3 separate regions of the Homo sapiens genome follow, and regions 2 and 3 are each linked to region 1. Evidence: fine-mapped expression QTL. A gene starts in region 1. Each other region holds a variant in brackets. All regions are shown on one strand. Distances are from middle to middle. Region 1 holds the start of RRBP1 (ribosome binding protein 1). Region 2 overlaps RRBP1 (ribosome binding protein 1). Region 3 overlaps RRBP1 (ribosome binding protein 1).

Region 1 (10,289 bases):
CATTCAGCTTCTTCCTTTAAAGTTAAACTTTGGTTTTATATTATTCTTTACAGAGTACTAATACTAAGATGAGCCCACAAGTACAACCAAGAATTCAAAAATTATTCCCCAGTACTGCCCAATGATCCTTTCGAAGTTATATGGAGGCCGGGCACGGTGGCTCATGCCTATAATCCTAGCACTTTGGGAGGCCGAGGAGGGCAGATCACCTGAGGTCAGGACTTCTAGACCAGCCTGACTAACATGGTGAAACCCCGTCTCTACTAAAAATACAAAATTAGCCGGGTGTGGTGGCGCATGCCTGTAATCCCAGCTACTTGGGAGGCTGAGGCAGAAGAATCACTTGAACCCGGGAGGTAGAAGTTGCAGTAAACCAAGATCACGCCATTGGACTCCAGCCTGGGCAACAAGAGCGAAACTTTGTCTCAAAAAAAAAGAGAAAAAAGAAAAAGAAAAAAAAGTTATATGGAGAATAACAGAGCTGTGTAAATAGTCACTGGTGTAGGAAGCAATTTATGCCACCCAAGAACACTGGAACTCCAATACTTTGGAACTGAAAAGGTTTCGGGACTGGGCAGGTATTCTAGTCTTGCCAAAAAAATCTAAGTTAGAAATCACAAAATGTTCTTGATAAGTTAAAGTTGCTGCCCATTGTTGACAGGTGGAAGACACATGTTACTGAATGCACATAAAGGACACACACGTCTGGTTTTGGGGGTGTCTGGTTGTCTGCTTCAGGAGACTCGGCCAGAATTTGTCTGCCTAAGAAAAGTCTCCTAGGAGGCCCCTGAACTAATTTTCTATATGCTAAGTGAGAGTGCCTCCTTGCCTAGGCACTGTCACTTAAAATTAAATATTTACCTTCCCTTACAAGCCATCACTTTCTACCTAATATCAATTTATTTTCTGTCTTTGTTACAAGTCACCATTTTGATGCTGAGGGCATTGGGTAAAAAATCTCTCCAGGAAAGGGCCACTATCTGTGTGGCCCCCCTCCCACTCCTTTTTCTTGGAATGCAGTTTACAATGCACACAAAGAGGCGGGACTAATGCTTTCTCAGGGTGAGATCTTATCAGGTGAAGTGTATCAACTGCCACTAGTCAACTGGTTTTGACCTACAGAATGGGCAATTTCATGTGGTTCAACATATTACCACATGATCAAGAGGAACAGGGACATGAATGTTTACAGAATACCAGCTGCCTCTACATCAGCACTGTCTAGAACTTTCTGTGATGGTGGAAACCATCTACAGCCACGCTGACCAACTTATGACTACTGAGCACCTGAAATGTGGCTAATTTGACTCAGAAATTGAATTTTTAATTTTACTTAATTTGAATTGTTTTAAACTTAAATTGCTACTTGTGGCTACTGTATTGGACAACACAGTTCTAGACAGTAGCTTTTTCAGGCAAGAACTAGGTCTCACTTGCGGTGTTTGAAGGCCCACCACACAGGAGACCCTCGGTGAAAAAAATGAAATGAAAAATACCTTCAGCACTGCCAGATTTTCAAAATGCCTCCCCACCTTCCTGCCACTGAAGCTCTTAATTTTGATCTTCACGTTCTGTGTCCTCCCTTGGGTAATTATTGCCCCAGGAAGGTGGAGGTATATAGCCAGGAGGGAACATTTGGAAGGCCGGGCCCACATCGCCTAGCAACTGGGCAACAGGAACTGGCCTGACAACCTTCTGACCAGCTGGACCTCCACATTCTCATCCACTGAATGGGTGACAACCATTCCCACCCCCTAGAACAGGGTTATTTTAAGGCCTAAATGTAAACCACAGTTGTGGAATCTGATTCTAAAAAGTGAACCTTAAAAACCAAGTTGGGCTAAGCTTCATTTATCCAATGAGACAGCTGGGAATAGTTTAACAGGTATGGGGGCGCTGTCCGCCTGGTATAACCAATATTTATGATGTTATAGGCCAGGCCTTAACCACTGCAGGCCCAGCATGCACAGACGGACAGCACAGTCCCTGCCTTCATCATTCTGACTTGACCATTATTTTTGTTTCTCCTGAAACAAGATTTTAGCAAAGAAAAACTTGCTGTCTCAACAGAACTGTTGATCCTCTATGTGTCATTCATCTATTAGTTAAAATTCCCAGGGCTAAAAAGACAAGAAGAGTCTGGGGTCCCGACACTTTTAAAAGGTGTCCCTGCTACATAATAAATCAATACTCCAATTCAATCACTGGCATTCAACCATTTAAACTGAGTTTGCTGCTATGTAATTATTGCAGCCTGTTGAGTTAGGGCTCATTTCATTAAAGAGCATAATTGCTCAAATGTGACTTGATTTAAGATTTATTTAAAACTCTTCCATCACCAAAAAATACTCATATACCATGAACCACTGTAACTTCTTAATCTCTCTGTAAATGTTCAGAGGCAGATTCCTAAGTATGAAAGGTGAGAGTTGTTATAGTGCCTAGAGCTCTAAACCCTCTCCTAAACCCCAAGATCCCTTTCTGGTTTCCCCTCCCCCAACCTTAGCCTCCTCCAGGCCTCCACTGGCCCAAGATCCCTGCAAGCCGGCTTTGCGGTGCTCCATGTAAAAGGAAAACTTCACCTACTAGGAGGTCTGCCCCGGCCTTTGCTTCAACAGAGAGGGAAATGGCACCTCCAGGACCTCAGAACCGGAAGCTTCTTTCTGGAAGGGAAAGAGGTTGGCATATGATAGTGGGAGTGACCTTTGGCAAGTTCGTAAACGAGTCAAGACATCACACAGTAAGTGACATGCTGCAGGGTCACAGATTTCTCTAGGTGTCGGATTAACAGGAAGTTAAATCAAACAAGGAGTGTGAGGAGGGAGGCGGGGCAGTGGGAGAATGCCCCCCAGCTGCACAGGGCGGGGTAACATTCGCAGTTGTTCTTCCTGGGAGTGCCAGACAGACGTCCTGGGTCTCTGGGGACACCCAGTTCTGAAGAGGTATCTAATGTGAGATATGAGGCCCTACCAGGCCCATTTCTCCAAATTCCTGAAAATGCCATCCAGATGGCCCCTACCCTGAAGGTTCCAGCACGCAGAGTGAATAGCTGAGCAGTGACGTGGGAGGCTCCTCAGGTCCCTCAGAGTTTCATTTCCTTGGTGCTTCCCAGTCTCTCCTAACCTCTGACCTCTCAGAGTAATTGCCAAATTGCCTTCTGTTTGTACAAGGTCCCAGCACTTCCCGGCGTGGTTCCCGACCCTGTGAGTGGGTGGTGCTGTCTTCAGGCCACAGATAAGAAACTAGGATTCAGAGGGGCTATGGGACCTGCGAGTAGGCGGCCAGTACGTGGTCCGGGGTGTAGAACCCCGGCTGTGCAACTTCTGCAGCCCCGCGCCCGCCGCAGTGCCGGAGCCAGGCCCCACCTTCCTCCCGTGTCCAGCACCCCCCAACAAAAGCATCCCAACTGAACAGCCAACACTTGTGGCTCCTTCCTACAAGTGCTGGGTCTCCACAGCTTTCCTCGCAAATCGAAGCTAACAGGAGCCCCGATTTGCAGACCAGGAAATGGAGACCCCGAACGAAACAACTTGGTCGGGGTCACCCTCGCCAGCCGGGGCACTCTAGAGCTAAAACTCGCGACTTATCATTCGGAGAGGGGTCCCTGAAGCACTGCGGGCGCCCCACTGGAAGCGCAGACCCCGGCCTGCCTCCCCTAATCAGGGCGCAGCGGGAGAGCCGGCCGGGCCGGGGCGGGCACCAGGCCGGGTGCCAGCGCGCTTGGCCGGCCCGGAGGTGTCCGCTTCCGCCCGGGGCTGGCACCGCCGGCCCATTCATCGTGGCCGCGGGCGGGGCGGGCCGGGCCCCGGGCGCCCTCGTCCCCCCGCCGGGAGCCCTCGAGCCAGGCTCCGCGCAGCCCAGCCGGGGAAACGGTGGCCCCGGCCCCGCCGCCAGGGGGAGCAGGGAGCCGCCTCCCGCACTCCGGGAAGTTGCCACCGCGGCCGCCCGGCGTCCGTGCCATGGACAGACCCGGTCCCTGCGCCGCGAGCCCTGCGGCCCCGGCCCGCCCCGTCGGGGGCCGTCCCAGCCCCGCGAAGCGCCAGCGGGCCGCGGCCCGGGACCGGCGCGCTCGGCCCGTGGGCCCCCATTCAATCCCGCCCTCCTCCCCTCGGCCGGCCTCCGCCGCCTTCCGCCCGCACCCCACCCCTCCGGCCCGGACTCCAGCCCGGCAACGTCATCCGGCGGCTTCCCGAAACTTAACCCCTTCCTCCGCCAGCTGTGCGCCGCCCCGCCCCGCCCCGCCGCCAACTTTCTTCGCCCAACTTCGGAGCGCGCTGGCCGGCCCGACGGCCCTGCCGGGAGGGAGGGAGGCAGGGAGCGGTCGCCACGTCGCGCCCGTCTGCCGCCGCAGCTCCCCGGACGGCGAGGGCCGCGGGGTCCACACCACGGGGCGCGCCCTGCCTACGCCCCGGTACGGCGCTTGCCCGGCACCCCCGCCCCGAGTCCGACCCCGACCCCGATGGTGCACGGCCGCGGCGGCAGGCGGCGGGCGGCGGGCGGGCCGGGGGAGGGGCCGCCGAGGAGACGTGTCACTCGCGGCGCAGCGCGGCCGGCCCCGGCCCCCCGACGGCCCGGCCCGCGCGCGGCCGCTGCAGGGCCCGGCCAAGTTTCTTACCTGCAGCCAGAGACGCGAGAGGGAAAGCGAGAGGGCAGGAGCCGCCGCCTTCGCAGCCGCCGCGGAGCCGGGAGAGAGGAGCCGGCCAAGCCTCCGCCAAGAAACCGCCCCCGAGCAGCTGTAGACGCTGCGACCCTGACGCCGCCCGCCCCGTCTGCCGTCCGCTCCGGCCGCTCGCTGGCTGCGTGCGCGCGTGTGGAGTCGTGGCACTTTCTGCCTCAGAGCTGGCGAACGGCCCCCTCCGCCGGGATCGCCGCCTCCTGCCTTCCCCACCCGGGCCAGCCATTCATCGAGCCGCCTCTTCCCATTGGTCCGCACCCCGCCACTCTGCCGGTCGCTGGCCAGTCAGGACGCGGGTGGCCGAGCCGCGGCGGCGGCCATTGGGCAGAGAGGAGGGTCTCCACCTCGGCCAATGGGAGAGGGGAGGAGCTGCGGGGAGGTGAAGGGGGCAGGGCTGGGGAGAGGCGGGGCCGAGCGGCGCGGCGCTCGGCCGTGCGCGGGGCGGGGCGGAGCAGGAACGCCCCGCCCACCGAGGGGGGGGTCTCCGGCCAGCTCCGCCCACTCTGGGCCCGCGGCGCTCCCAGCAGTCTCTGACTAGGATCCGGCTCTGCCTAGGCGGGAAGCAGAAGGTTCGGGTCCCGGCGACCCCGGGCCTGCGCCTCTGGATACCGCTGGGCTGACATGGCGGTGGCTGAACAGGGTTGCGCAACCGCGAACAGCCAAGGAAGCTGCTTTATTTAAACCCAACTAACTTCCCCCGAAGCAGCGCCCCCTCGGGCCGCCGGGTATGAGGACAAGCTCTGCTGGGGGTCAGCCCAGGGAGAGCAAGTTCTTATCATCAAAGAGATTGCAATCAGCACCAGAAGGAATTTCCTTCAGTAAATGGAGGAATTGGGGTGGAAGAGCCAGAAGGTGCACGAGGAATTGAAGCGGATGTCATCGCCCTCGTTGTTAGGGAGGGTACAACTGAGGCACGGTCTATTTAAGATACTCAACCAAATCACAGCCGGCAGAGCAATAATTACAATCCACTCTGTGGCGTTTTATTCCATGCGTTGGGGAAGGTGAGAGGTTCTAACCTAAGAAAACTCATCCGTGTCCCACAAAACGGAGCAACTGGTACTTCCTCATTCCCTGACTTTCTCCCCAATATCAGCCAACACTCAGTCTTCATAATTAGTCAAGTCTTTAAATTAAAATAATTTTAGGCTTGATTTTTAACCATTATGTCAGCGTCTCTTAAAGCCAACCCTTTGAACTTGAGCCAAAGCCAGCTTCTTTGGAATTTTGGATTCTGAGCGACCAAAGGCTGCCTAGACTGCCCCCCATCACTTCCCTAGCTCCTGTTGCTGCAGAATCCCGTGCCTAACATCTATTTCTTGGACAATTTTCAATCTTCCCTGTCCCCATTTGTCACTAGTACTGTACTAGCTGTTGTTAGAAAGATGTGAAAAATACAAGCCTTCATGGGGAATAAAGAGCGATTGGGTTGAAATTAAACTGTTCATTCCTATTTTTAATCTTGGCGGTTCCTTAGCCCATTAATGATTAATCAGCAGGAATTAACCTGGATTAACTCTGGAACACTCAGTCATTTTCCAGCAGTGAGACCCGGCTTCAAATGAAAGTCAAGAATCCCAGCTTCTGGCTGGCAATTGCTACCAATGAGTCCTACTTGACCAGGGCTGGGCCATCTAACCTTTCTGAACATGGGTATACTCCTTTAGGACAATCACTCCTTCCTCTGGGTTTCAGGGAGGAAATTCATTCGTTCATTCATTCATTCATTCATTCACCGGTGTTTGTGGAGTGCCCGGTATACAGTGCTAAGCTGGGCAAGCAGCCTAGAATGACACATAGGTCCAGTGAAGACCCAGCTGCCCTCAAGGGCCTGTCCAGGGACAGGGACCTCCTTTATCCTGTTCACTGTTTATCTTTTTCCGGAAGCAGATCCTGGCAGTAGGGTTTGTTCAATCATTCATTTGGGGGATAATCATAAGAAACATTGGTGGAGAAGTGGGATGAGCAGGAGCCAATAAGGGGACCAACATCAAGCCTGTGACTGGTGTGGGCACACAGGGCTCGGCGTCTCTGGGGATGCTGTGAAACTGTAGAACACACCCCAGAGACGTCCCAGCTGAGGGGTGAGGACCTGGTTATTTATCCAGCCACTCCCAGTCCTCATTGGTTAACAGCTTCTTCTGGGGGGACTTTAACCCCCGCCCCCATCAAGCTGGAGAAAGCCTTGCAGCAAGAAGCCCTTGGCAGAATGGTGAGTGCCTGGAGGCATGTCGGGGGCCACAGCAGTGTCTCCCACACTGTGAACCATAGTCCGACACAGCACCTGCACAGAATAGAGGCTTGTGAATATACGTGTTCTGTAAATATTGTCCCATGAGCGATAACATTACAAAGTCCTTAGGAGTGAGGAGTGTTTACAGAAAAGGGGCTCCCTGTTTGTTCCCTTACATAACTTAACATTTGATTTGGCCTCAACACAACATTTGTTTCGGGATGGAAGAGCAGCCCTGTCTGAGCCTTTGCATTTCCTCTGTCCTTGCCCCTCATCTGCCAACAGCCAGCCCCAATGTGCTGTGAAGACTTCCAGCCTCATCATCCTCATGCCCTTTGGGCAAAGAAATCAGTCCCGCTGCACCAGGCTCTGTCAGGGCAGATCTGCACACCCTCAGGGTGGCCCGACTTTGACAGCCACTGCTGTGCCTGTGGACACCCATCTTTAACCCCCTGCAGCCTCGTCAGCTCTCCCAAGGCGTATCTGGGAAAAACCAGATCCATCCCTAGGACTAGATGGACAAGGGTTGCCTGTGGTGGGAGTGAGAGGCATCCCCCCAGGCTCAAGTCTTCTGCTAAATCATGCAGCCCTCCAGCAGCACGAGAAAGCCCATCCCACAGTCCAGCCTCCAGGCTGGGGCTCTCAGATGGGAACAGGTCATTTCAACACAAAGTCAGCAGTCTGGGAGCCCCCAGCCGGGGGAGTTACCCCACCCTGAGGGGAGCAGAGGCTGACAGCAGAGGTGTGAAGAAGTGGGAGGTAGCCAGGCCAAAAAGGGCACACTGGCGAGGAATAGCATGGGCAAAGTAAGGCATGATGTTAGCCAGGTGTGGTGGTGTGCCCATGCAGCTCCAGCTAGCCCCAGGACTGCTTGAGCCCAAGAGTTCCAGGTTGGAAGAAAGAAGAAGAAGAAGAAGAAGGAGAAGGAGAAGGAGAAGGGGAAGGGGAAGGGGAAGGGGAAGAAGAAGAAGACAGAGAAAGAGAAGGAGGAGAGGGGGAGGTGGAGGGAGAGGATGATCTGAGATCACATCATCTCAGTTTATCTGTTGAACAACTCAGTTGTTGGCAAAGCCTGAAGGGCGAGGGAGAGGCTGGGAAGAGCTGGTTCTACACAGGTGATCATAAGGGAAACAGGGAACTTCCCTGGGGTGGTGCAGATGTTTCATATCTTGATTATAGTGATGGCTGTGGTAAAACTCATAGGATTGTACACTCTTAAAAAGAGTACATTTGGCTTGGAAGCAAATTATGCTTCAATCAACCTGACTCAAAAAAAGGATGTATTTGGTTTTAGTTGTGTATTAAAAACAAAGCATTATTATTAGAAAAAAATTAAACATACAAGAATAATTACCTAATATGGTCCATTAACTCATGACAATAAATTGCAAATATTATCCGAAAGACTAGACAGGAAGATGGGAATATATTATATCTCACAGTTTAAAAAGAGATTTTGCTTTGTCAAACAACTATGAAAGGATGATAAATGACAAGTACAATAAAATATCATGTGAAAATAAAAGCCACTGTGATAATAGAGAACATGTTTAGGTTTCTTGTGCCAGGTACCATTTGAGACACGCTACAAATACGTAAAGTTATTTAACCCTCAGTACAACCCTATAAGGGAGGTAGAGTTATTATTTCCATTTTAGAGATGAGGAAACCGAGGCACAGAGAGAGCAAGGAACCTGCCCATGTCACAGGGCTCGTCGGAGGAGTTACATTGGTCCCCAAGGCTCATGGCAATAACTCTTGCATTCAGCGCCAGGTCGTGGAAGGTGTGCTGTGCCTATAGAAGGGGCAAGATTTGAGCCTAATCCTTTGAGAGTAGCAACTCAAGGAAGGGTTTGTGATTGATGACAGCTGTGATGACTCCTTTGACGTTCTATATTTTGGGTGGATGCTAGGTTTGGGGCCCACAGGGTTATAAGACCCACAATAGCTCAGGTGAGAGGTGACAAGGGCTGGAATGGGGCAGTGGCAGGGGTAGGAGGTGCAAGGTCCTTCAGGAGGGGTATTAGGACATGAAGTAGTAGCAAGTGAGGCTTAGAGACCAGCAGGAGTGAAGGAGAGAGGGGTTACCCATGAGCCCTGTTTCTGGCCTGAGTGATAGGGAGCATGGTGGTGTCACTGCTGGGGCAAGGCACACAAAAGAATGAACAGATTGGGGACAGAAGCTGGGGGAAATGTTGTATTGTATTTTGACATGTTGGATTTCAGGAGCCTAAGGCAAGTCCAGGTGGAGACAATGTTTCCGTAGGTCTGAGGCTCAGGGGTTGTTGTCAGGGTCAGTGATGCAATTAGGAAACCTAAGCATACCCTTGGAGGTTCAGACCCAAGGACAGCAATGACTATAACCAGTGGATAGGGTGGGAGTTGCATGTGGATGGGAACAGGAGAAAATGCTTGAGTCCTGAACAGAGAAAGGAAAAAACCCACAAAAGAGTATGTATCAATCAGCTTTTGCTATGTAACAAACCACTCCCAAACTCAGTGGCTTAAAACAAGTATGGTTTCTTATCAGAGCTCACACATCTGTGGGTCAGCTGAGGCTTGGCTGATCTTGGTTGGCTCACTCATAGGTCTCTGGGTGGCCTGAGAGCTCACCTCCAGCCTGGGCTTGGCTGGGGCACCTTACAAGCTCTGCTGCACCTGGCTCACCCCCTCTTCCTGTGATCAGCAAGCTATAAGGGGCATTCCCTTCTCACGGTGATGGTTGAAGGAAAAGAAAATAAGCAGAAATACATATACAAGGTGTATTGGATAGGTGAGCCCAGATTCAAGGGGCGGGGAAATACAGGGAAGGGTAAAGCAATGGCACCAGTGATGCAATCAACTACTGAGTCCAAGAAGGAGAGATGGAAAAGGTAAATCAGGTGAGGATGGCCTCAGCAAGGGAAGAGAGTTTCAAGAATTGGGGATGGTAAGCACTGTTAAATGTAGCCTAAAAATCCAGCAAGATGAAGACCGGGGCACATGGCAACTCAGGAGTCACCAGGGACCTTGGGGAAACAGCTTTAGAGGAGGGGTATTTGGTAAGGACACCACCAGATCGTGGAGGGCTAAGAAATGAATGGGAGTGGAGAAGGTAGAAGGAATGTACATCCATTCATCCGACAGATGAATCCAGCTGAGGACCCACTAAGTGTCAGTCACTGTTCTAGGTGCTGGGGAGAGAGCCACGAACAAAGGAAGGGTCTTCTCTCACGGAGCTCACATTCTAGTGGGAAGAGAGATAGTAGACAAAGCAACCAATAAATAAGTAAGAAGAATTGAAGTGGTGCAATGGGCTACAAGGAAATGAGAATGGGCTCAGGTGATGGAGAGGGATGGGGATTTGGAGAGGGGGAGCGCAGTGGATGTGAAGAAGATGGA
Region 2 (10,289 bases), 33 kb before region 1:
GTTTCAAAGACACCTCTGTAGTTACAGACTGGGCAGGGCAGCTGCTTCAGCCGGCGTCTAGCTGCTGGCTGCAAGGACATTTCCCCCTCCTGACTCAGAAAAGCGTCCTGCGCCGTCCGATGTGCTGGGCACCAGCCATGTGTGGCTACTGGGCACCTGCAACGTGGCTGGCCTGACTCGAGATGTGCTATGAGTGGAAAGTACACGTGGAATTTAGAAGATTTGGTATGAAAAAAAAAGAATGTGAAGTATCTGTAATAATTTTATATATGGATTGTATGTTGAAATAACATTTTGGATAAACTGGGTCAAACAAAATGTATCGTTAACATTCAGTCCATTTGTTTCTTGCTGGCCTTTTTAAATGTGGCTGAGGACATTTACATCACATCCATGGCTCACACGTGTGTGGCTCACATTCTGTTTCTCCTGGACTGGCTGGCCTATTCCTTTCCAGAACCAGGGACCCCCAAAGTGCCCCCTGCTGAATTCCTGGCAGCCCCTGGTCCTACAGAGGTTCCAGAGTGACCCAAGAGCTCTGGCCTCTCTTGAACTCTCTCCTTAAAGACCACCCTTCCAGGCCCCACGGCCCCTACTGCACTGCTGGGTGGGGAAACATCTGGATAAGGCAGCTGGAGGGCACGCGCTCTAGGACGCCGCTTCCTGCACAGGGGCAGCATGGCCACATGCTCACCCGCCGCAGGCTCAGTCCACAGAGTGCTCCCGAGAGTGTTCTCGGAGCGGCATTCTCATAAATCTTTATTAAAACTTTCTAACGTAATTCCATTCTATTAGATATTTTAACAGAAAAATAAAAACTTGCAACACGCGAAACAAACGCAAAGCTGCGTACAGCAAAATGTTAACGCTCTCCTCTGCCACCTCTCATGGCCCCCCAGAAACTTCCACAGCCTTTGCCACACTCATACAAACACTACCTTTTATACTGTTTTTAGAGAGCTATAACTTTACAAATCATTTTTCATTAAATCTTTTAGGTAAAAACTCTGCTGTCTCAATTGTCCCCAAATCAAGGGCAGCACAACTGAAAGAAAAAAGGAAAGCCCTCAGAAGCAGAGGCAGGATTTCTGGGCCTCCAGATGAGTTGCATTTAAATAACGTACTAACGGGAGCCTAAGGCGTGCCCAGCACATCACTTAGGGCTCCAGCAAATACTCGAAGATACCAGTAATCTTCCGAATTGTGAAATCTTAACGCACTAAACTAAGTCTCTCAGACTCAACACCTAGTCTGTGAAATCACAGACTTCAAAAGGCCCAGGGTGCAGTGAATGCTGGAAAAGCTCAGCTCCCTGAGGGCTTGCTCCTGCGGCTAACGCTTTGCCCATCTTGGTGGGTATGAAATACCAGGAAGGGACAGGCCAGGAGGCCTGGGGAGTGACCAGGGAGCAGGAGACCCAAGAGTAGAGACGCAGGCCAGTGTCTCACTTTGATGGATAATCCAGACCTCTGTCTGGCAGGGGACACAGCAACACCCCAGGGGCCAGGCCCTGCAGGAATGGGACAGGTACTGTGACAAATAACCACACAGGCCTGGGCTCAGGGGGGTGGCCTCTCCTGAGCTGGGTGGTCCTGGGCACGGCACTTCACCTCCAGGTGATAGCTGCAATGGGGGAATCTGAGCCAGAACCCTCAAAGCCACAGGCCTGCCCAAGAGCCTGGAAACGAGATTTTTAAGTGCTATCTTCTCATCTTTACTGCTGACAGCTAACTCAATAAAAAACAAATAAATGAATGAAACCACTGTACAGATGAACAAACACATCCGTGGGCCACGTCCAGTCTGCAGGTCACCTCTGTCCTTGGGCAGTGGGGCACCAAGGTCAGAGCAAGGCCTCTGGGACCAGGTGGCCTGGAGTCGAATCCCAGCTCAGCTCCTTCCCACCTTTGTCCTTGGACAAGTGGCTTAACCTTCCTTTGCTTCTGTTTCCTTGCCTACAAAACGGGGATGATCATTGTTCCCCTCACAGCGTGGCTGAAAAGAGTAAGTTGCAACGTGCTTGGAACCATGCCTGGCGCAGGGTAACGCACAGCAAAATAAATCAGCATGGCCGGCCTTCAAGCAGCTCACAGCAGCTCAGATAACGCACCTCACACCCCAAATTTCAAAATGACTCTCCCTTCTGCGACCACACTGGGAGGCTCAGGCACCTAAAATTAAACTCATCTGGCAAAGAGGCACTTAGTGTTCTCTCTCACTGTCAACTGTGGCGTCCTTGGATGAGGCTTTTCTCTCTGTATAATTTCCAGGATCCCCCATGGCCAGGGCTCAGGCATAGAAGGAGGATCTCAGCCCTAAGTGGCCTCATGAGACTCAGCGGCCAGCCCCCCACATCAGCTGCTGGAGCACCCCTGCACTGTGCACACCTGGCTCTCTCAGTCCACGGGGAGGGTATCAGAACCACTCCAGGAACTGCCGCCTGAGCCCTGGCAGCAGCTGGTGGTTAATAGGAGGGGATTATCGCCTTGGCCCTGGGATGGGCCCCACAAAAGGCTCCGGCTCAGCTCCAGCTGCTGCTACAGGTGCCCAGCAGCCCTGATCAGGGCAGGCAGGGCCAGGTGGTCTCTAGACACAAAGTATGTACCACCTGCATACCCAGCAGTTCGTAAATTGCTGGGCCTGGAAAGTTAAGTTATAGGTTGGGCTGTGGCCAACAGAGGCAGAGGACACAGGGCCATAAGGCAGAAGAGTGACACAAGGGGGACCTGGAGAACAATTGTGGCAGCAATGCCGAGAAAGGCTTTAAGGCATTGGGCCAAGCATAGCTGGGTAAGGACACGGTGAGGGGCTTTGGGCCCTAGCGTGTCAGACTTGCACCCGAGGTTGGACTAGGTCCAAGTCTTCATAGGCCCTGGGAATCTGGATTTTATTCTGTAGGCAACAAGCGATGCCTAGGAAGGAGCGTTTGAATTTGAGAAAAAGATTTCAGGATGCCCAGGGGGATGCGGCTGGAAGCAGGCAGACCAGCTGGCCTGGACCCTGGTCCTAAGAGCCTATCCCCGCTGGGTCCTAAGAGCCCAGGACCAGGATCTGGGCCCGAGTATTCAGGAAGCTGAGCTGGTGGGAGAGAGGCCCAGGTGTCAACCCAGGGACTCTGGCAATGGAACCTGAAACAGCATGGACTTGAGGGCTTGGGGAAGAACTCCAGTGGCAAAAACTCTCATTTCCTAAGAGATTGTCCAGATCAGTTCTGAGGGTGCCTCCCTCAGACACACACATGTAGTCTGAATAGCTGCTGCCTCCGGGCCTGCACGGGGTGACTCCAGACAGTGCAGACCAAGGCACCCAGCATGGCTGCCCAAGCCAGATCGCAATCTTGGCGTGCCTTCCACGCCCTGTAGTCCCCAGTCACCCGACCCAAACTCAGGTCTGCTGTAAGAAGGTGAAGACCCTGGGGCCCCAGGAAAGGGCTCCCACATGCCTCCTGGAAGCCCAGCACCACGCAAGCAGTCATCAGCCTCTGCAGACCAAGATTCAGAGGCTGAGGACAAGCTCCCCATTCCTGCTGACCCAAAGCCAAGGGCATCTCTGTCTCTCTCAACCTGAGGAGCCGGCTCCCTTCAGGGTCCCACCCCGAGGTGGGACGCAAGACGCTCTCTAGGGAGGAGCTCCGGCCAACATCACTGCTGGCCTCTAACTGCTCGTTCTTGGACTGTGGCCGTGAAGGCTCCTCCTGAGCCTGTGGGGGAAGTGAGCTTTATGAGACCCTGGAGGAAATGAAGATCTACCAAATGCTCCTGGAGGCAAACTGCGACTCCTGCTCTCACTCATTGCTCATCTGCCCACAGCTGAGGCAGGCCCTGGGCAGTGCACAAACAGTGGACTCCAGGCCCAGCTCAGGCCACAGAGCCCGGCCTTGCCCAAGCGCTGCTCAGCGCTCCTGACAGGAAGCAGGCCAAGGAGGCGCAGCTGCACTTGACCCCAAATGCCACGAACGGTCACATCCGCAGCTTTAAGGGCAATGGAGCTCAGTACAAATAATGTCAAGAACAACCCAATTCAGGGCCTTTCAATCAGTCCTTTTCCTTTAGTTGGAGAAAAACGTAATCGGCTACAAACTTGGGGACTGGTATATTTAATGGTATCTAATGGAATTTAAAATATCCTATAGATTGAAGAACTGTTTTCCTCTTTAAAGTTTTGTTTTTTCCTCCAAATTTCAACAAAACCAATTTTATACCTGGAGTTAAAAAAAACCCACATCACAAT[A/G]TTTTTAAAAGAACGACAATTCCTGGAGGACCTCTGGGCAAGGCCCTTCCCAAGGCACACAGGCTGGCCCAAGGAGAATACAGTTTAAACAGCAATTAGGACTCTACCTAATGCCTGCAGAAAACGGCAGGGGATTTTTAATCCCAGGCTGTCTGACCACAGCCGTCTGGGGGCAGTGACCGGAGTCCCAGCCTCAACACGTTTTCAAGTGGCTGAAAAGAGATTTCTGGAAGAGTGTCATCTAGCAGCTTCTCACACTGATACTTGGCTCGCTTCCCTAGGGGATGTTTTTGTTCTTCTTTAAAAAAAGAAGAAGAAAAGAAAAAGTTGGGTTTGAAGAACTTCCACAGAAAGTGAATAAAGGGTCATAAGCCCCAGAGAGTTTTCTTCAGAGCTTCAGACCCTGAGAAACTGAGTTAGGTTCAAAAGAAAAAGTATCTGACTTGATCTCCGTGTACACCTCTCTGTGCAACTGCCGGCGAGAAGGGCACAGGGGCACCTGCCGGGCAGGGCGGGGGCCTCGGGAGGGGCTGCCCACACCGGCCGCTCTGCCATCTGCTGGTCATGTGCATGACTTCTGGGAAGTCTGAGCTTTGCTTTCTGCTTCTGTCAAACAGGTAAAAATTCAAATCCACCTTAGAGAATTGCACGAGGGATAAAGGCATGGAAACCAGCCTCCTAAACTGCACATCTGAACAAACACCTGGCTGGGGAGAGCAGTGGCGTCAGACCTGCTGTGCTAAGCAGCGCTGGGTTTGGAGCAAAGCAGGCTACACATGGGGAGGACAGGCGTGGGTGGGTGGGTGGGTGAGGAGCTGGGAGCAAGGGGTGTTCCCATCACGAAGTCAAATTGTTTAAGGGCCCTGCTACCCTAGACACCTTGAATACCGTTTCCTGGGGGCTTGACAACTCTTCCCCATACCCCCTGACCTGTGACCCCAGCCCCATTAGATTGCAGAACACGACTTGGGATTTTAGGTTACATTTCCTATTGTAGGGGTAGAATGGGGGCTCAGCGAGACTGCACACGACACAGAGCTCACAGGCCCCCTCCCACCACGGCACTGCCAGGCTCCAGAATGTGGGAACTGCCTTTAACTTCCCACCTTACCTCAGTTCATGAATGCCTCCCAGATGCCTGTGTGCTAGGGCTGGGACACGCACTGGCCTCCTTCTGGAGGCCTCAGAAGAGCTGGCACTACCTTTCCTCATTCCAGACCCCAAAAGGAGCAACGTGTTCCTTGCTGCTCCTCAGAGGACACAGGGCTGCCTCAAAACACCCAGAAGGATGAGAGTTCCATCAGCTTTGGTATAATGAGGGCCTGTTTATTTGACTTAGAGACACATAATGGAGTTGTTTCTTCTCCATAAAAAAAAAAAAGTTATAGAAAAACTGGAAAATGCAGAAGGGTGAAAGGAAGATACTAACATTTACCCATAATCCTACCTCCCAAAGGTGGCCTCTTTTTCCCACATGGACTTATCTGACAACGTGGCAAGAATGGGCCTCTGAAATGCCTGTTTCTGAGTGTTTGCCACCTCATGGAGGTTGGGTGGGTTCTCCTGGGCCATGACACAATGGTCTCTCTGGCCACAGAGTAAAACTGGCTTGCATCAGCAGGCTGGGGAAAGAGGGCCCCGCAGAAAGCAGGCCCACAGCCAAGACAGAAGTGCCATGTCCCCAGGGTTACCCACCCCCGTCCATTAGGCAGAAAGGTCACAGGTCCTTGGGTGAGCTCCAGACTCCCCAAGAGTGCAACAAGTACCCTGCATCCCCGCATCCCCTGAGTGACGTGCTAGCAGAGGTAATGAGGAAACACCTGTTTCCAACCAGCAGCAACAATGAGTGAAGCAAGCTCCAGTTAAAAGTACACTGTTCTGGAGCTCATGCTAACTGTGGGGTCTTCAGAATGTACATATGTACTTCCTCAGTCTACGCCCACACTGTAGGATCCAGACTTGATTCCAGGTGCTGGGTGGGACAGCTCTCCTGCCAGTGTAACACCCAGATGGTGATTAGTACAAGATCAGGGCAGCCCAGGTGGGAGGCAAACCAGCATAATCCTGCAAACAAAGACTCAATCTGAGGATAAAAATAGATTTTTTTAAAAACCAACACCACTGCATACACACACGTCTTGTGTTAGAAACTTGACTTTCCTAATAGACACTGTGCATAGGTGCTCAGTTAACTATCGGAGAACAAACCAGCTAAAGCCTGGACACGTGCGTCAGCTGACAGTACCCGGAACACGGGGAAGCTTCCATTCTGGGGAATTTCCACTTCTCGAGGATCCCATCAATTTCCTCCTCTCCAAATATTTAGTAAAGAATTTGTGCCTTTCATTTCCAAAGAAAGAGGCTTTCTCCTTATCCCACGTCTGGGTTTATAATGCTCCCTGCTCCCCAAACTTCCTGAAGTTAGAATCATTCCCAGAGTAGCACAGCAGCACCGTGTGAGGAGTGCTGAGTCAGAAAACAAATCTTGTGGGCCTCTCATCGTAAATTGTGAAACGTTTCTGGAAAGCAATGCAGCACTGTCTTCCTAAATTAAAAACGTACCCACCTTTTGACTTGACAATTACTTATCTAGGACTTTATTTTGTAGAGACACACAACAGTGTATGTACATCATTGCAGCATTAATTTTAGCTGCAAAATAGCTGCACACTACTTAAATGTCATTTAAATAAATTACAATACAGTCATGCTAGGGAATATTATGCAGCTGAATGTGGCAGTTTCGCAGGTGCAATACGGAAAGATGTCACCAACACACTGTTAAGCAGACAGCAGTGTGCACTGCAGCTCCCGTTTGTGGGTGCCCATGTGAAGAGCACAATGAATTTACCCCCCCGCCCCTCCACCCCCGGGAAGCGGATGGTGATTGGGATGGAGCAAAAAGACTTTCTATTTTCACCTTCCATGCCTCCATACTGTGAATTTTGTTTGCTGGAAACACATATTTATGTAATAATAAATTGTAAAAGGCAAGGATTAGGAAGGCAGGTGTTCTCTGTCAAATACAGCCATGGACAAGTGGTAAAAACCCGCTGCAGGGCCCCCATCTGCTCTTGGAGGAAAATCAGAGCAGAAGTTCTGGAAGAGCTCCAGCCTGGGTCTGCAAAAGCATGTCCTGGGCCTACCACTCCTGCCAGGTCTCCCTCTGGGGCACCTGTCAGCAGGGGGCCCTGCTGGACCAGCCAGGTAACAGGTAGGGCTAGGAAGACTGAAGAAGCACTTCAAGTCTCTGGTGGAGCCCAGCTCCAGTACTGGTTTTGCTGCTAATCTGTCCTGTGCTATGGGCCAGCCACAGCCTCTGTGCAACACCAACACAGGTCTGCACAGACCGGCTAGTGATCCAAGAGGCCACCTCCTTTCAGAAGGTCCTGTTTAGAGCACTGCTGTGCAAAACTTTCTGCTCTGACTGAGATGATCTGTCTCTGCACTGTGTAAAGGGAGCCACTAGCCACATGTGACTAGTAGGCACTTGGAATGTGGCTAGTGTGACTGAGGAATGGAATCTTTAATTTTATTTACTTCTGACTGATTTAGGTGATAATTTAAATGCTCCCATGTGACCAGTGCCTCCCATATGGGACAGCACAGCCCTAGGCCCTACACCTCCCCTGCCCAAGTCAAGGCCTCCTGGACTCATGGGAGGAGTTCCCGTCCTGGCCTGCTCCACACCGGTGATCTAGAACCCACTGCCAAGCACCTCCCAGATCCCCGCAGCACAGCCCTCATGCCACCTCACCCCTCCCACCCAACACACTCACACCCACAGGTCCCTGTGTTTCTAGATGCCCAGGGCCAGTCAGCCCACCCGGAGTTCTGCCTACAGTTGCCTCAGGTTGGGCACACATGACCCCCAGAGAAGCTGGAGTGGGCAGGCCCCAGACTGACAGGAAGCTCAGCCCCAGCAGAGGGGCAACGAGGCACAAGGCAGCCAGTGGGGGCCGCCGCAGCCTTTCCAACAAAGGGAGGAACCCACGGTCTAACGTGTCTCATCCGGGCTTGCTCACCAGGCAACATGGTCACAGCCGCCAATGTTAAGTGGAAATCCAAATAATTCTGGAACATGAAAACTCCACATATAAGACGTAGCAAGGGTGAAACCAATTCCACAAGCCACTGGTGAAAACCCATGCTGTGGACTCACAGATTTCTGCCTCATACCCTCGGGCACCACAGCTCATGGCTAACTGAAAACCAAGAAAATCATCCGAGGGCACAGAGACAAGGTGGGAAATCACTGCAAGTGATGAAGTGTGCCCGGAGCAGAGAAGGGCCTTTGCAAGGCAAAACGGCCAAGCATCCAGAGAGCGCCACCGACAACTGACTGCAGTGGTGGGAATTCTGCCAGATGCAGCTACATGCCCACCGTGCCCAGCGCGCCCTCGGGCTCTCCCCTGTGTTCGTGTTATTTGTGTGTGGGAAAAGCAGACTAACTGTGAGGAGAGGTGCACACTTCACTGAGCCCACCCAGGGCCTCTGTCCTTTACAGTCAGAGCTGCAAAGCAGCTGGGAGCTATGCAGACAGACCTTCTTGCACACGCCACCTGGCAGTGGCTTAGGGGTTGGGCCCCCCACCCATGCTGTTAGTAAGAAGATGGTAGCCACAAATGAATCAAGAAATGTCCCTGGAGCCCGTCAGCTGCAAAGAGCAGAAAATACGTGTGCTAAAGAATAAGCAGACTGTGACGGAGTCCAGATGAGACCAATACATACAGATCACACGCCAAGAACAGCCTGGCCCTGGCCAGGCGCGGTGGCTCACGCCTATAACCCCAGCACTTTGGGAGGCCAAGGCGGGTGGATCACCTGAGGTCAGGAGTTCAAGACCAGCTGCCAACATGGTGAAACCCCATCTCTACTAAAAATACAAAAATCAGCTGGGCGTGGTGGTGGGTGCCTGTAATCCCAGCTACTTGGGAGGCTGAGGCAGGAGAATTGCTTAAACCCAAGAGGCAGAGGTTGCAGTGAGCCGAGATCGTGCCATTACATGCCAGCCTGGGTGACAGAGCGAGACTCCATCTCAAAAAAAAAAAAAAAAAAGAACAGCCTCCTGGTCCCAAGGTGGACAGAAAGAGCCACACATACATGCCTCACAACCCCCAGCCACCAAAGACCAATGTTGATGGGGACATTAATATCAGATACCCACCAGCACAGACTAGAGAAAAGCACACTGCACAGTTAAACAGTAATGCACAAACGCATTTTTGTCTGTTTTGGTTTGATAATGGCCATGCAGGGTCTGACCACTGCACTAAAGGACACAACAAAAGGACAGGGCTCTCCACCCCAATCGCTACCCGCTCAGACTGGTGTGGGCCGTCCACGTAACATAGACTCGACCTCCTCACATCCCAGGGCCGGCACCCTCCCTTCACAGTCTCCCTGTAGGAGAGCCTTTGTCATTCCAGGACTCAAATGTCCCCTACATCCTGAGTGTGACCCCATGATGGAACTGGTGGCAGCAGGTGCTGAGTGTGAAGCATCTTAAGCCAGAGTCCTAAATGCTTCTTCTTGTACAGATGCTGCTCCCCCAGTGAGAAGATCTCTACCTGGGACCACGCAACTCCAGACACATTAAGGACTTACGGGTTTTCTGTGGATAAACTTGGAGGCTTACCAATATGCACTACTGATTCTGTGGAAAAGAAGTAGACTGAATACATTGCTTGTTAACTGGGATTTCAAATACCTTGAATTTCGGGCCTTACCACTCAATCACGTGTGTGTTTGCTAGTGACTCCCTTCCATGTTCATAAATGCCTCCTTTCATCTGTCCTGAGCTTTTGCTGCTTGAGCATCATGGAATCAGGGAGGGTCTCTTCACTGTGGCTGGAGCTCTGGACCCATCACCAAGTCCACACTGCCCTATCAACAATCCTGGGTGACTCTATAGCCTGTGCCATTATATAAACCACCCTCAGCCCCTAAGGTCTGTCCACTGTGGCTCTCGGGTCCTTCTCTGCACTTCACCCCCGAACTACTGAGATGAACCCACAGGCAGAGGCCTGCGGTGCTGAGCTATGTCCAGAGACAGCAAG
Region 3 (10,289 bases), 64 kb before region 1:
CCGGCCTCCCACACACCCACGGGGCTGTCAGAGTCAACCAGGGCTTTGGCGTCACTCGGCGGTGGCCCGGGGCTGCGCCCAGGATAGTGTTTATCAAATGTGACACAGGTTCATTTACAAACTGGGGCTCTGGAAGGTCTACTTCTGTGGCTCTAAGAGACTTGTCTCTCATGGCTTCTCTCGGAGCTACCGGAAGTTGGGCCTGGATAACGCTGTGTAGGTTGGTTGGTTTATTTGTAAGGAATGTGTAAGGCATTTTGGTAAGTTGAACAGTAACTTCTTTTTCCAAAGAGGAAACTCAGACAGAGGTGCCCTCCTTTGAGCTGCTGCCGTCCTCCTGTGAACGAAGGCAGGTGGCGTGAGGGGGGCTGGGCCACGAGCCATGGCAGAACCACCTGCCCTCTACCCTGGGCCTTTAGTCCCTCCCTGGATTGACCCCCTCAAGCCACTCCAGTCCCTCAGAGAACAGGAGCCACAGACCCCTGGGGCTGGGGGACAGGGAGGACTTGGTGGGAGCTGAGGGGAAACCATCATCCTGCAGGGCAGGGGCTGGAGCACTGGCTAAGGGGCCCACACAGGTGCAAAGTGAGGACCTGGGCCAGCAGGGGGATCAGACACTCGCTTCCCAGCAAGGGAACCCCAGAAGGGTGGGTGGTGGGCCGGGTGGGCTGAAGCCCTCGTTAGGAAGTCTCTGTCCCCACTACCTCCGCCCAGCTCTGCCTCCCCTGGGGCTCCCAGCCCAGCGCTCCCAGCAGCTTGACGACTCCGCCCAGCTCTGCCTCTCCCGGTCCTGCCTCCCCGGGGCTCCCGGCAGCTCGACTCCTCCCGCCCTGCTTTGGCGCCAGGCACGCACTGCCTTTTCCAGCTGTTCCTGCAGCTTCTTCACCGTGTCCTTCTCCCTTGCCAGCTGCTCCTGGGTCGTCTTCAGAAGCTCCTGCAGTCTCGTGGCGGCGCGCCCCAGGTCACTTGTTAACTTCTTCTCTTTTTCTAGTCTCTCCTGATGGTCAGAAGGTTGACGGGCATCAGCCCTTGCACCGGCAGGAGGGCCACCCCAGCTATGCCCACAGGACCCTGACGCCAGGGGCTGGAGCCCTCTGGGGACACAAGGAAGGCAACTCCTGGTCACCCGGAGATAGGTGGTGACGACAGGGAGGAAACCGCCCATGCTGACCGTGAGGGCTGGGTCCTGTGCTCTCAGCACCACCAGAACTTCCTGGGGCAGGAGCAGTTTACTCCGCACTGTCCAAGGCAGCACAGGAGACACACCTGACTACTGAGCGCTGGACGTGTGGCTGAGGAACGCACTTCACGTTCTACATGCTTCACATTTCGACAGCCACCAGGACTAATGGCTGCCATGTGACCATGTGACACTGCAGGGCTAGGAGTCCCCACCCCAGCCCCGGGTAGTGACAAGGGGAACCAGTGCCAAGGGCAGGTCCCGGTGGGGTCGGCTCTCCCCTTCCTGGCCCCTTTCCGAGGCCAAGAGTGGCGCCAGCCCCAGAGCAGACCCTCCAGGTGTGACCCCCGCCCCAGCCCCTGCCTGCCTTCAGCTGTGAGGCCTCCTCTGTTTCTGAAGACTCTAGGGGGCCGGCTGTGCGGAGCTTCTCCAATTCTTCTTGTAACCGACATGCCGAGGTCTGAGCCTTGCCGGAGAGGGAAGTGAGGTCTGGGTGAGACGTCTTATAAACGGCTGTGCTGTCAAGACCCTACCGAGCACGCCTGGGGACCAGGGGGCCCCCCCAGCCTGATGGAGCAACAGCTCCATCCTGTAGCTGGAATGAGTGGGCCAGACCCACAAGTTCTGACCCAGCCCCAGGCCCTCAAGGCTCCTCAGGGATGCAGACCACCCACAGGGCTCCCAAGGTGCCTCCAGCCTGTGCTCCACCTGCCCGGGCCCCACCCACTGCTGCCCAGAAGGCCCAGGCCCAGCCCAGGTGCTGCTGGGCACAGCCGAGCGGGGCAGGGCTGACCCACTCATTCCCTGGAGACTCAGGGCCCAGGGGCTGATGGGGGCTGAGAGCCACCAGGCAGGGCCTGACCTCCTCAAACTCGGCCGTGAGCTTCTGCCGCTGTGTCTGCTCATCCTCCAGGATGGCTTCTGTCCACTCCAGCTGCGTCTTCAGCTGTGCAAACACCGCAAACATAACCCGGCAGCCCGGTGAGGAACCCTCCAGGGGCCCAGGGATCCAGCACAGGCACCGCTCTCTAGCTGCTTCTAGCTTCCCCTTTCCCTGCCCCAACGCTCCCCTCGTTGGGGAGAGGGCACCTCAGCCCCTGGTACAGACTTCGGTGTGGCTCAGGAGCAGCTGATGGGGCCTCTGCAACCTCAGGGGCCTTTAACGAGACTCACAGGACAAGAACGATGCCTCCGAGCCCTGGCCCCATGACAACCCCCTTAACAGCCACACCATGGCCACCCCAGGGACAGGCCCTGCCTCTTGGTGAGGACTCTTGGTGGCTATTGCCGGGCTCAAAACTCTGGAGAGCGAATATCCTGCTAGCGATGTCCCAGCCGGGGTTGCAGTGGGAGACAGTCCCCTTCGATGGCTGCAGACCCTGCCCAGAGCTGCTCCTGAGCCCTGTAGGTGCAGACCCCAAATCACGGACTCCCTCTTCGAGTCCCACCTCCCCCCAACTCCTCCAGCCTCTCCACCTGGCCACCTTTCTGTTCCATGCTCTGTGGCTTTCTCCGAACCTGGATGATCCAAATGGGGCAAAGCAGGGTGGGGTGGGGAAGCAGCGGAGGCTGGAGCAGCCAGTGCGGGGTTTAGTCCGAACGGAGGCAGCAGGGCCTGCACTCTTCTGGGATTAGTGATGTGTCTGGGGACCAGCTCACCGCCCTAACCTGAACGGGGTCCTGCTCGGCTGGGGGCGCCTCTGGGGAGGAAGCTGGGGCCCCAGCTATGTCACCATCCTCTACGTGGCTCTTCATTTCACTCAACTGCTGCCTGACCTGGAACAGGAAGGGGTGTGTTTGCAAATGCACAGCCAGTCGCACACCCACCATGCTCACTCCTGCAGGGACCCCCTCGGAGGACCGTAGCTGCTCTCAACAGCCAAAGTCCCTTCAGGGGACCTGGCTTGGTAACTGTGACCTATGTCTGGCCACCCCCGCCGCCAACCTGAGCCAAACCAAGGCCACCAAGCCTCTGGGCTAATGAGACCCAATGTGCTCTGCTCCAAGCCCAACCGGAGGGGAGCCCTCCCTGGGAGTGAGGTGACCCCTGATGGGCATGGCCCACAGAGCAAAGGAATCCGAATGGAACCGGGGGGTGGCCGCCACACTGTCTACACCCCCCGTTTCTCCTTCAAGGATGCAGTCCACTGCTCAGAGCCCTTTCCGGGGTCTAGAAAAGATTATGAGATAACATTCTTGCCTAACAAGGTCCCCCACCCCTACGCTCCATCACTGGGGTTAGGTGGCATATCTGGCTGCACCCAAACCACTGGGCCTGCAATTTGAAGGGCAGGTGTCACTCGAGAGGCTCAGGTAGAGGTTCCAATTGGAGACCCAGGTGGGGCCCTTGGCATAAGCTCCCCAGGGAACATGGGCGGTCTCTGACCCTGCGCTGAGGGGCCACCCCAGGTACGTGGGAACCCCAGACATTCTTCCCTCCCTCTGAACAGCCCCTCCCAATGCAAATAACGAACTGCACAGCTGGAAGACAACAGAAACTCCAGGGGGTTTTCTCTGCACATCCCCGGCCTGGGCCATGCCCCCGGGGCCTGTCACCCAGACTTCGCTCAGCCAAGGCTTCAGTGAGTGGCCCCTAGACACAGGAGGAGACCTGGCCTAGGCAGCACTGCCCTCTGGTGTTCTGGTCCGGGTAAGACCTGAATGACCAAGGGGGACCGAGGGTGTTGGGAGCGTGTGCCGGACTCACTGGCTGCTGCAGGGGGAATGCCAGCCCATTTTTATTTAAAATTTCCCAATTTCTCCCTGTTGACAACTAATTCAAGATTTAAAAAAACACCGCAGATCAAACAGAACATGTCTGCGGCCTCACAGGGTGCTGCTCACAACACCAGCCTTGGGGCGGTACCAGATCCGGTGAGGCTGGGTGGAGCCTGCCAAGGAGCTGGGACTTGGCATCAGACACCTGAGCTGAACACCAGGAGGGACTCAAGAGGCCACCTGCACAGGCAGAGCTCCAGTGGTCTGCCAAGGGGGCTGCTCTCTGCACCCGGCAGCTGGTATGGGGCCGGGCGTGGAGCAGGTCTTCCCTGCATGCCTGTGGCTTTGACTGAATTGATCTGAGCTGTCACTGAGGTGAGAAAACCCACAGAAGGCACGGGACTTGCTGAGAGCCCCAGGGCGATGGGTGGCCAGGCCAGGAGGAACCCCCAGGCTTCCTGGTCTTGTGATGCCAGGGACTGCAATATCCCTGACGCCCCCAGGTGACTACAATGGGCTCACAGGGAATGCAGACGCCCAGAGCTCTCACTACCTTGAACAGGGGACCAGGTAGCCAGGGGACGGGAGATGGAGTGGGAGCACCCTGGTCCCAACAGCCACAGGCCCAGCTCAGAGTTCTGGGCAAATGTGCAGGAAGGCCCCCAGAAGCCGGCCCCATGCTGCTCAACGGGTGACACTGTCCCTTCCCTAGGCTTTATCTTTGAGTGGACACAAACGCATGACTGGCAAATGCATCTCACACACGCAACGCCCCAGGTCACACTCCTGGCATGGGGACATGGAGGCCACCTACCAGGGCAAGCTCATCGCTCTGTTTCTGGGCTTCGCTCTTGGCGGCATCGAGCTGAGATTGAGATTCTAGGAGAAGTTGCCTCAGCTTGGGGAGAAAACAGAGGCGGGTGATGGGAAAAAAGGAGAGAAAAGGAGAAAACCAGTCCCCGTGAGTTAGCGCCGAAACATAAAACCTAACACATCCACTTAACCAAAACCCTGAGGAGGGTCACAGCATCGGGCCGGCACAGGGCTCGCCAGGCTTCCTACAGCTACGATTTCTTTTTTGAGGACTTAGGAAGAATGGTGTTCACTGCGTACCTCTTTCAGGCCTTCACAAATGTTTACTGATTATCTCTGGCAAAAAAGGGCCAAAAGTTGGAGATGATTTTTTTTTTCAGAGATGGTCTCAATCTGTCATCCACGCTGGTCTTGAACTCTTGGGCTCAGGCAATCCTCCTGCATCAGCCTCCTAAGCAGCTGGGAACGGAGGTGCCCACCAGTGTGCCTGGCTTTTTTTTTTTTTTTTGGTAGAGATGCGGTCTTGCTATGTTGCCCAGGCCGGTCTCAAATTTCTGGCCTCGAGCAATCCACCTCAGCCTTTCAAAGTGCTGGGATTACAGGCATGAGCCGCTGTGCCTGGCCCAAAAGTTTGAGATTAAACCAGAATTGGGATACTGGGCTTGTGCTTCTGCTTCTGAAGAGCAGAAAAAGTGTCAGATCTAAATCCACTCCCCACCAGATATGACATCAGCAAGCCAGGCAGAGAATCCCCTTGCGGAGGGATAACCTAGAACGTCAAACGCCTCCCTCGGGGCAGGGCTGCCTGGCTCTGCCCCTGTCCTGGCTGGGAGGCTGCCTTTTTGAAACCTGCCCTGAGAGACACCTCAGGCCTGACAGCCCAACGAGGGGCCTGTGAGGCTTCGGGCAAACGCCTGAGGACTCGGACTTCAAGGCTTATGTCACCGAGAGCTGCTCCCACAGGGCTGAGGAGAAGCAGCTCAGGGAGGACCGCAGATCTGCTGGGCAGGGGCTGCACTCCTTGGGGGGCAGACTCACCCCTGCCACCTCCTTGGCGTAGTTCTGGCACTCGGCGCTGGCGGCCGCCATGTGCTTTTCCAGCTCTGCCTCCAAATGCGACGTGTGCTCCCTCACCTGGACAGATGCACAGACACGCACACGCATGCGCCAGCAGCCTCTGCTCAAAGGGCACTCACCTCAGGGAGCAGGCTGGCCCTGGGATAGGTGAGGCCTCTCGGGAGATCCCTGAGGCCCACCAGCTACCAAGCAAACGAGAAACTAGTCCGCGGCAAGAGAACCCCTTACGGAAAGTGGCAGGCTGCAC[C/A]CGGGCACTCCTGGGGACTGACATGCTCTTAGATTTACTTGCAAAAGCAGGTACCAAGGGTACCTTCTCCAGGGCTCCCTGTGGCGTCTGAAGGGGGCAGTGGGGCCACCTTGACTGTGAAGGCCGTGGCAGAAGCCCTGTTCACCAGGGCTGGGCAGGTCTGCACAGGGCCCGTGGCTGGGTCTCAGGGTCCTCTGAGGTAGTCAATGTCTCTCATTAAGGAAAAACAGGATGGACAAGATCCCTTGGCTTGAGAGAGAATGCCTCTCTTAAGGCACACGGTCCATGAGGAAGAAATCAGTGAAGTGTCCTCTGCATTAACGTCACTTTCAAAGAGGCTCCCGGGACAAGAGAAAGAGTTCTCTGAGCAGAGCACATACCTGGTCCGAACTTTCAAGTTCTCCTTTTAGCTTCTCTACAATCTCTTCGAGATGCTTCACTGTGACCCGGGACTACAAAGCAAGGGGAAGGCTCCGTCAGACACGAGCACCTGGGGGTGTCTCCTTCCGAGGCCATGCTAGGACCCGAGCGGGACTGACCCAACTTAGGAAGCCCCGGGGGTGCCCACTCCGCCCAGCTGGGACGGTCACCCTGGCGCCATCTGGCAGTGTCTTCCTAGGCGGGGGCCTCCTGGAGGACGGACTGAGCTGTCATCCCGCAACTGTGCTTCATAGGGTGTCGTGGAAAAGCCCCACCGAGACACACGAGTCTCACAGGTGACAGAGACAATCCTGTCAACTCTCCCCTGGGCTTCATGTGCTCCACGGCGCCGGGAGGCAGGCAGGGCTGCATATACCTTCTGGAGCTCCTCCTCTGCGGCGCCCACCTTGGCCCTCCACACCTGCTCCTCCTCCTCCACGCTCTTCTGCAGGTCTCTGAGCATGCCCTCCTGGGGGGAAACCGAGGTGAGGCAGGGCCCTCTCCCTCCCGAGACCCGCACCACACAACCGCATCTTCCTGTCCCTGCAGCCCTGGTGACCTGCCGTGCTCCGCCTGCTGACTTCATGAGCGCCAGCGTTAGGTGGGGAGGGAAGGCAACCACTGTCCTGGGAGGGAGGTCCTCTGGCCAGTGGGCCAGTGTGGCTGCAGTGCCAGGCAAGGAAATGAGGTCTGTGACCTGCACAGGACCACTAGGATGCTTGTTACTGCCGGGGTTTGCCACCAGCACCAAGTGTGTCAATGGCCCAGGACGAGGAGCACAGGATGGGCTGGCCAGAGAGTGGCAGGGCTAGACCTGGCATTGCTCTTAGTCACAAACGGGGTTCAACCTGGCAGTCACCAGCTGCTTACCCCGTCCTTCCCCTTCCCCAGCTTAGAGACCGGCCCCGAACCTTCAACTTGGCCTTCTCTTCAGCTTAGAAACAATGACGACCTCAGAGGGTGCCATCCATTTACCATGCAGCCGAAGAACGGGGCCCAGAGTCACAAGGCCAGTGGGCTTTTCCAAAACACCAGGCCACCTCCTGCCCCATAGGCCCCGAAGCTCTCCTTCCCTGCAGCCTCCCAGGGATGCCCAGCTGACAGGTTCCCAATGCTCACCGTCTCCGCCAGGATGCTGCGGTACTGGTCACACTCGGCCTGCAGTGTGCTCTGCGTCTCCTCGGCCTCCCTCAACTTGGAGGCCAGGTCCTGAGAGAGGGAAGAACAGGTGTTTAGTTAGCCACACACAAAGGTTCTTCTCTTGGCTTCCCGTTGAAATGACTTGGGGCAGCCCCTCTTCCTGGGGACAGGGGAGCCCAACAGAGGAGCCTTGCCAGGCAGCCACACTTACCGAGGAGGGCTCCGCGGGAGCTGGCGGGTGCTTCAGCAGCGTGGGGCCTTTCTCTTTGAGATCCTGCAGCCACTCGGTGTAATTCTGCAATGAAACACATTCGGTGAGACCCGGGGACATTCCCTGAGAACTGTGAGGTCCCCGGGAACCACCCTCCCCTCCTACCTGTTGTGCCAAGACAGAGAGTTCTGGGAGCAGAGCCAGCAGGGCCTCCATGGTCTGCGCCTCAATCAGACAGAGCTGCTTCTCCGATTCCTCCTGGGGGGTGGGTGGGGAAGAGCGGAAGGTGTTCAGCTGTGGAGGTGTGGGGCACCTCCCCAGGTCTTTACTGATATGCCCGGGTCTCTGCCCCAGAAAGGGCACATCCTCAGCTCTTCAGGGAAGCGACAAGAATCAAAGGAGAAGATGAGGCTCCATGGGGCTGACTGTAAGCAGAGGGGTTACCCAGCCTGTATCTGGTCCATTTCAAACAGACTAAGCTCTGATGAAAGGAGCATACTGGGTCAGGCCAAGATGGCAGGTGCCAGCTCCCGGGACATCTCCCAGCAGGGACAGTCTCCACCAGCTCTCACTTCCCGAGCTCTCTGGGCATGTGTGCATGTGTGGGGGAATTTGGGGGGTCCGCAGTTGATGTGTGAGAGCCAGGGCAGGAAGAAGGGATGGGAGGACACTCATGGCCCCCAATGTTTTGGAATCTAGAGCTGTGATGGGGATGGGGGTGAAGGCAGGGAAGCAGTGCGTCTGCTGGCGGCACCACGGTTAGGGGCTAGTGGCAGCCAGGAAGGGGCAACCCAGAGAGGCTCATCTCCAGCCACCCTGGAGAGGGTGGATCAGCATTCCCCCTCTGCAGAGGGAGAAGCCCACTCAGAGGAGACAGGGACTTTGCACCCTGTGCCATGCTGGGTCGGACACCCCCTCAGTCCTCAACGAAGAGCCAGCGGCCCCCATTCAAAGCACAACAAAGATAAGGAAACAAAAGGAAACAAAGGGGGCCCAAGGGAATCATGAAGCAAAGCCTAGGACCACAGTGTCCCCCGGGAGAGAGCTGGGCTCTCCCACACCCCGAGGGGAAGGCTGCTGGGGTAACAGCCTGTGTCTGGCCCTGCCACCACCTGGACAGGCCTGGCCTAAGACCCAGGGAGGCCCCAGGAACTCCACCTGGATCAGAGCTGATGGAGTGTTAACTCCCCCAAGCAGAGTCCTGGAATGTGCATGAAGGATGCTGACCACCGGACACCCAGCCTGAGCGCAGCGCCCTCTGGCCTGACGCACACCTGAGAAGCGGGCCCTTCCTGGCTGGCCAAGTTATCCACAGGTAGGGCCCGTGACCCATGTGGACCCTTGACCTCACGACCACCACTGAGGCCTCTAGTTGTGAGTCAAGGCAAGCTGGAGACCCAGAGGCCACCTTCTATCTGGATGTGTGACCACAATCAAGTCAGGTGACATCTCTGGTCACAGCTTCATTTACCACATGGTAGCCAGACAGTCTCTGAGGTCACTGGGGGCTACAAGGCCAAGATTCTAGGAGTCTAACTATAGCTCTCACAGGGTGGCCTGAGGCCATCCTTCACCTCCTGCCCTAGCTAGTTGTCCTCATCTGATACAACCCTCAGGCTTCCTGGGAATCACCGCAAAGCTCCTGCCATTGGGGCAGATATTCCTGTGAGAGAGGCTGGGAGTGGAGGCCCTTTCATGAGGTAGGAAAACGTGTGTGACCTCAAAGTGTGGGCAGGGCCTTTAGTTGCAGCTGCTGCTGGCCATGTCCCCTGGCCAGAGCCTCCTCACTGGCTCCTGGACAGCCCAGCACCCCAAAAGCAACCCGTGGGCTCAGACACTGGGAGACACCTGCACACGCCCCACCTGGACAGCATGGAGCGCAGGGCCAACGCGGCCTCTGTTCCCCGAGTGCTCGCTGCAAACAATGTCCTCCCCTCTGTGACTTAAAGACTCCTCATGGGACTGGGCGTGGTGGTTCACCCCTGTAATCCCAACACTTTGGGAGGCCAAGGCAGGCAGATCACTTGAGGTCAGGAGTTGGAGACCAACCAAGCCAACATGGCAAAACCCCATCTGTACAAAACATGCAAAACTTAGCCGGGCGTGGTGGTGCACGCCTGTAATCCCAGCTACTTGAGAGGGTGAGGCAGGAGAATTGCTTGAACCCGGGAGGCAGGGGTTGGAGTGACCTGAGATCACGCCACTGCACTCCAGCCTGGGCGACAGAGCAAGACACCGTCTCAAAAAAAAAAAAAGTCTCCTCACAGAGCCCCCTGGGCCATGACTTCAGAGGCCCAAGCAGCAGGATTACCCGACAAAAGGACACACAACAGAAATAACACCAAAAAAGCTCATAAAGAGTGCAGCCTCGGGCTCACTGCCTCCAGTCCCACCCCAGCAGCTCTGTACCCTCAGCCAGAGAGACCAGCACGGAGAAGCCCATCAAGGGGGCACCCCCATCCCTCTCTTGGAAAGGAGCAAGT

What was found.
Region 2: its variant is fine-mapped to the expression of RRBP1 in whole blood (INTERVAL, PIP above 0.99).
Region 3: its variant is fine-mapped to the expression of RRBP1 in whole blood (TOPMed, PIP 0.99).

What each region holds. Positions count from the first base shown.
Region 1 is chr20:17,677,413-17,687,701 of GRCh38, forward strand. It overlaps RRBP1 (ribosome binding protein 1), which reads right to left and starts at 4,830. Exons shown (of 25, transcript NM_001365613.2): 1 at 4,616-4,830; 2 at 2,587-2,663. RefSeq lists enhancers at 2,124-3,323, 3,515-4,187, 5,441-5,500 and silencers at 3,761-4,070, 4,101-4,150, 4,181-4,510, 4,741-5,160.
Region 2 is chr20:17,644,564-17,654,852 of GRCh38, forward strand. The region is part of intron 3 of RRBP1 (ribosome binding protein 1); the gene reads right to left. Among named protein-coding and RNA genes, the nearest start is that of RRBP1, 33 kb to the right of the region's middle. RefSeq lists enhancers at 3,663-3,752, 3,817-4,520 and silencers at 3,933-4,022, 4,672-4,801, 7,413-7,492. The variant A/G (reference allele first, on the strand shown) is at 4,231.
Region 3 is chr20:17,613,884-17,624,172 of GRCh38, forward strand. It overlaps RRBP1 (ribosome binding protein 1), which reads right to left. Exons shown (of 25, transcript NM_001365613.2): 14 at 7,972-8,064; 15 at 7,807-7,890; 16 at 7,575-7,664; 17 at 6,832-6,924; 18 at 6,416-6,487; 19 at 5,750-5,845; 20 at 4,713-4,796; 21 at 2,849-2,956; 22 at 2,043-2,126; 23 at 1,548-1,646; 24 at 854-997; 25 at 1-337. The coding sequence ends at 299. Among named protein-coding and RNA genes, the nearest start is that of DSTN, 49 kb to the left of the region's middle. RefSeq lists enhancers at 31-754, 755-1,478. The variant C/A (reference allele first, on the strand shown) is at 6,036.